Regions from separate parts of the Homo sapiens genome. Here region 1 is linked to region 2. Evidence: fine-mapped expression QTL. A gene starts in region 2. The other region holds a variant in brackets. All regions are shown on one strand. Distances are between the middles of the regions.

What was found. PIP is the estimated chance that this variant, and not a neighbour inherited with it, causes the effect.
Region 1: its variant is fine-mapped to the expression of CA3 in lung (TOPMed, PIP above 0.99).

What each region holds. Positions count from the first base shown.
Region 1 is chr8:85,348,986-85,351,900 of GRCh38, reverse strand. The region is part of intron 1 of CA1 (carbonic anhydrase 1); the gene reads left to right. Among named protein-coding and RNA genes, the nearest start is that of CA1, 28 kb to the left of the region's middle. The variant T/C (reference allele first, on the strand shown) is at 1,303.
Region 2 is chr8:85,437,433-85,440,347 of GRCh38, reverse strand. CA3 (carbonic anhydrase 3) reads right to left here and starts at 1,489. Exons shown (of 7, transcript NM_005181.4): 1 at 1,405-1,489; 2 at 439-636. The coding sequence starts at 1,438. RefSeq lists enhancers at 1,130-1,652, 1,653-2,176.

The sequences.
Region 1 (2,915 bases), 88 kb after region 2:
TGGGTTTAATAACAGTACTAAAAATCTTTATGGTATGTCATTTAATCATCGACCTTTGCATTACTTCAACAGCAGCCTTACAAGTAACAAAGAATAAATCCTGTGCTTGCCTCTAGGTTTTCCACAGAGGTAGTGAAAAGAACTGGATTTTCAAGTTCACTTTGCAAGAGGCAAGTAGGAAGGAGACTGAAAGCTGCTCGTAAATCAGTAAATCAGTTGCTTTAGGCCGGACACCTGCCCTGTCAGTCTCAGCTACATCCAAATGGAAAAATGGGTGATCTAGGATTACCCTCAGGCGATGCCAATGGCCAAGGCACTAAAAGGTCACATCTATTATTGCTGGCATTTCTTTCCCCACTGGGCTGTTTTTTGAGTGGATGTCATACTCATCTCATACAGAAGGCATGTCCATCATGCTAGAGCAGTGCTGTCAATATTAGATCTAATGAAATACACCCTATTTTTCTTTTCTGCAAACTTCATTATACCTAGCTGCCGCTAAAAGATGATTCCTTTTTTCCTTACTACTCCAACATTACATTTTAGGGACATGAATCCTTAAGCAAAGTTTCATTCGCCACCTCTGATTTTAAAGTTAAAATGAGTCTTTTAAAAACATTAACCAAAATAAATGGCACAGTGAGTGCCATACCCAGAAGTGGCTACATAAAGCCACTACATAAACAGTCAATGCTCCCTTGGAAGAAGTCACTGGCCTTTACTAATAATATCATGTTCATCAGCAAACAATTTGGCAAGTGTGTAGTATCAGAAGTTGGGGGAGGACTAGAAACACAATCTTAACACACAAAAATAAATGTGGATAAAAAAGTGTAGCAACAGCTGTTGCCAGCTGCAAGCAACCACGCAGTAAAATCCTGTCCAACTCTGCAGGGGACTGTATGAGGACTCTTGGAGCCTGAGACAGGAGTGACAAAAGATCGCATTGTAAGAACATCGAACGTGAACCCTGGCTAGCAAGCACCCCTAGGAATTACCAATAGGAGGAATTGAGAACATTGCCAAGAATTCATCTTCCCCAGATCGAATCACTGCATAAAATCAGCCCTATTTGTTCTAAGAAGTCCACATTCATAAGCTTCATTCTAACTGAGCTTGGTTCTTAGCCTATAAGGCCCATAAGAACTCCTTTGGACTCTGTGGATCTCCATTTTAAAAGCGTTATTGACTCGAACCTGGGGAGGTGTTTTTCCTGGAGTTCTTTCTCACCAGACTAGTTCTGGCTGCCTCCTGGGTGATGATGGAAAACTGAGGCACTTGCCAACATGTCATCCCCTCATT[T/C]TGCAACCCTCAGGCAGTTGCACAAAGGCTATGTGGAACTTTACCAACTAGTTAAAGGCAGAGTCCGGGACAGTCTTAAAGGAATTAGGACTATTACAATGTCCAAGTGTTGCATATTAAGGAACTCCATCACAGGGCCAGATAAACTAGGTGCAAGGCGATGCAATTAAGAGCCTTTCATTCAACACCTCTTCACTCATAACCCTGGGGTTTTGAAATGCAGCGCCTTTCAAGTCACACTTGAAAACTGTTGCCTAAGCAGCCTCTCCAGAATTTTCTGATTCCAGAAGCTAAAAGAGCCCTAAGAAACCACAGGAGAAGCTGCCCTGCACTCCTTCTGTGGGAGTCACTGAGGACAGAAGAGTTACGTGATATCAAACATCTTTAAGAGGCCTGAAAATTCTTCACTTACTTAGAGCTAAACCCATCTTAGAAATCTGCTTATTGTATATGTTTAGGTAACTCTCATTTGCCTGGAGCAACTTGAAAAAAAATTTTTTAGAAAGTAAAACAGGAAATTCAGAATAAGACATGGCCTTGACCAGCTAAATTAATTGCCCAAGTAACCTTTTGCATAAAGGAAACAGGATCAGGAAGGATTTCCATTCAAACCTTGCTATTTTGCCTTCAGGTAAGAGGACAGGATTCTTTTCTAAAATTTTGCTGTGAAGACCCTAATAAATAATTTTGCTTTTTTCTCCTCCCTATTCTAGAAATAGAAGGGAGGAGGACCTATTTTGTTCCATCCTGTAGGCTGATCCTTTACACCTAGGACTGGAAGAAATAAGGTAGATTTTTGTGGAAATGTAGAATATGCATTCACCAGCTACACTGGAATCAGGAAGCATAAATCACAAGTAGCTTGGTCTCTCCACAGAAATGTGGAAATGGTAGGCCCTGAAAGAGCCTCAGTAGGGATGCATGTGATAGCTTCATGAGCTGGGCAGGCTAGCTGTGGAGATGCAAAAACCACAGCATGCAGCATGCATTCTCTCCAAAGATAATGGTGGTCCATACCCCATCTCCAGCACCCATGGACAAAATCAAGCCAAAGTTATAGGGTCTGTTTTAGGGAAACTACAATGACTGTTGTGAGGTAATAGTTTCCCACACGACTAAACTCTTTTGTGATAATAAAGTAAAAAGTAATGAAAAAAAGTTACTGTTAGTTTGATTTTATAATTTATCATAGTGGGAAGAATTCTTGACCCAGAGTTTAAAGACTTGACATTCCACTTTTAACACTTTCATCTGACTTTGGACAAGTGGCTTAATTTTCTCATCTGTGAAAGCCTCTTTCTTCCTTTTGAAATGGAAATACTGATATTTGTTTTTCTCAGCCTCCGAACTTCTTAAAAGTTACAAATTAAGATCATGTGAGTAAAAAAAGTACAGGAGTAAAATGGTCTCATTCTATTGGGCTATTCTAAAAGAAACTATTTCTATTTCTTTCTTTAAAAGCACCTGTTGTGTCCTTAGTGTAGAGGCTAAAAATAAAAAGATTTTTTAAAAATCAGAAAGCACTTGTAATCATTCCATTTATTCCTTCCCCATTTATTAGAAAAACCCCGGGGTGAGGGGGTCAGATTATGTCCCTTGATTTCAAGGCTGAT
Region 2 (2,915 bases):
GAAAGTGCCTATTTAGGGTTTCTATTGTATATCTGGCTTTGTAGAATGGAATCTATGCAATTGAGAGTGGAAGCCTGGCTCTCCAGACCATGGACAAGAAGCACAAGAACCCTCAGGTATAGGCCATCGGAGTCTGAAGAATACTCATTTGAGTTTATTGTCATCTCTGTCCTATCGTGTTCCATTTCAGGAATGCATTGCCAACTTTTAGCTTGGACATGGGGCCGTTTTCACAGAGACCAAGTTTGGAGGGTGTGACATTCCTCTTCAATACATAAATATAATTATTCATGACTAAAGCAAAGTCAAATGTCATCTGCATTTTAAAAGATAAAGTGCTCCCTCTCCCCATTAATTCTGGTACTGTGTCATAAACCACATTTTGTCAATATGGACCTTGAAAACATCCATGTGATTCTACCTCATTGTCATACTTACTTGACCTATCATAAGTATCATCAAATACAACTCGGCAGGTCTTCCCATTATTCAGGATGGTCTTGGCAGAGCCACCATCATAAGACACAGACCATGGCTGCAGAGAAGGGTCATGCCTGATGTCTTTAGTATGCAGCTCAACGGGCGACTGGTTTTCCCCCTTGGCATTTGGGAAAAGTTCATGCCAGTGGTCAGGACCTAGGAAATAAAGTCGAGGAGATGTATTTATTTGGTGGCACAACCCAAGGCCTCTTTCTAATTGACTAAACCAGCAAAATACAGAGAGGCTAGACAGTGATTTCAAAAAGGTCTTAGGTTTCAGACTGGGCAATAAGAGACTTAGCATTCATTTCAGGCCTGTTGGTAGTTTTGTGAATAGCACACATGGAGACTATTTAACTCAGTGTGTTCACTCTGCCTGCTCAAAGGCTTATTTTTCAGATAAACTTTATCACATTTTTTTTTAACCAATGACACCTTCCATCATAGAGTTGGAATAAAATAATATTGACCACCTACATTTGAGCATTGTGTTGTGGGTTTCAGAGCACACCCATGTTCCTTTGCCTTGGATTAGGGAGAAGCTTAGGCAGAGCAGAGATTCTCACACCGGCACCAAGCTCAGGTTAGGTGCTTGTCCAGTAAAACAGAATAAGGGCCAGTCACACCTGACCTCGGGCTGTCTGACTTCTCAGAGGCAATGGGATCTTAGGCAAGTGATCCAACTTCTCTGCACTTCAGTTTTCTCCAAGGGAAATAAAAACTCCATACTAGGGAGAACCAAATGAGATGAAGGAAAAAAAGAAGCAGCAGCATTTGGCAGTTGAAAAGCCTCAGTAAATGTTAGGTCTTATTCTACTCCTACATTTTCCACTGCAGTCTCTAAAGTTGCCCATTTCTGTGCAATGGCAGGGCTCTCCTGGACTGGCATCCCTTCCTGGCCGGGTCGCGGCTGCCTGCACTCACCGTTGTGACTGGCGTAGCCCCACTCCTTGGCCATGGTCGCCTTCCTCCGTGCTGGACGGCTCCTGCTTTCTCTTCCCCTGCGTGGTGCAGAGTCGCCGCGAGCCCGCGCTTTTATGTAGCTCCCCCGCACACTGCATGGCCTTATTAGGTCAGCGAGGGTGGGGCGGGGGGCTAAACTAGATTGGGGTGGTGTTTGGGAGGCCGGGTAGAGGAAGCCAATGAATTCCAAGAGCGGGACAGCTGTCGAGGTGACGGGGGCGGAGGTGGGCGAAGGGGCACCCACGCCCCTCCCTGCGCTCTCCCGGGAGTCGTGGCTCCTGGCCCCTCCATCTCCTCTTCTTCTCTCTCAAAACTGCAGGGTTTCTAACCGGCGCCGACGTGCAGAAATGCAGGCGGCCCTCACCTCGTCCTCTCTCCTTCCTCCATGCATTCTTGGGGATGGGGTGGGGGCAGGGACAGGGTGTCGTAGTTGTGCTTGGCCACGAACTAAAATCTACATCCCGGCGGCTCTTGCAGCCTCACTTAAAAGTTGCTTCAAGCGCAGGCTGGCTGTCTGGCTACGATCTCTGGACACTTGTGCGAGTTTATTTCGCTCTAGCGATCCGGTTACAGAGGCTGGAAAGAACTCGTTTGTTTGCCTGCCCCCTAAGTTTGACTCCCTTTGCAGGCAACATGTAAAATCCTAGGAGCAAAGGATGGGAAGAAAGGGTCCGGAGCAGGGTGAGAGGGTGAAGAGGCCCTCCAAGTCCGTTATCCTTAAAGAGATGGCCCTTTCTGGAATCGCACCAGGCGGCATTTCCCAACCTAGCGGATCCTTTTGGCTTGCAGGAAACCGAGGGCTGGATCTCAGAGAGCGCCAGATATCCAGGAGATGTCTGGATCCCAGGTTCACGCGGAGCTGGAGACTGGGACTGATTTAGCCACACTCCCTGAGCTGTACCTCTGTTCATGAAAAATCAAGAATATTCTGAAGTATTGGAAGGCCACTAACATAAAATGAGTCATATTTCTTAAAACCTGTGGTCTTGCTCTCCAAGATACAATGAGAGATTGCAAGAAAAGAAAGAGGGAAAGATTTACAGAATGGCTTTTAATTTTTTTCTCCCCCTACTAAGTTGTTTTCTTATACATTGAACCATGCAAAGGAGAATAAAAGTGGCATATCTAGTGTGTCTACATGACAAAAGTATATTTTTAAATGTCTGGTTATGGTTCATATCAAAGAGGTCAGTAGTAGATATTTACAATTTTAAGAGTATATTGTAAAATTTCTCCTGTTTTAATTCAGTAATAATTTTTTAAGACAATGAGGAAAGATAAACCTAATTTCAGTGCTATCTTGAACAATATTTCGATATACATTTCCTTAATTAACTTTTATTGATAATAGTATTTAGTATTTGGGGATTACAAAACTCGAAAAGGAAATCGCTCGTCATGGCACAGATAGCTCATCCCTAAGGCATGTGGAATGACTGACCACACTCATAACCTGGACGCCAGGGGAGTCA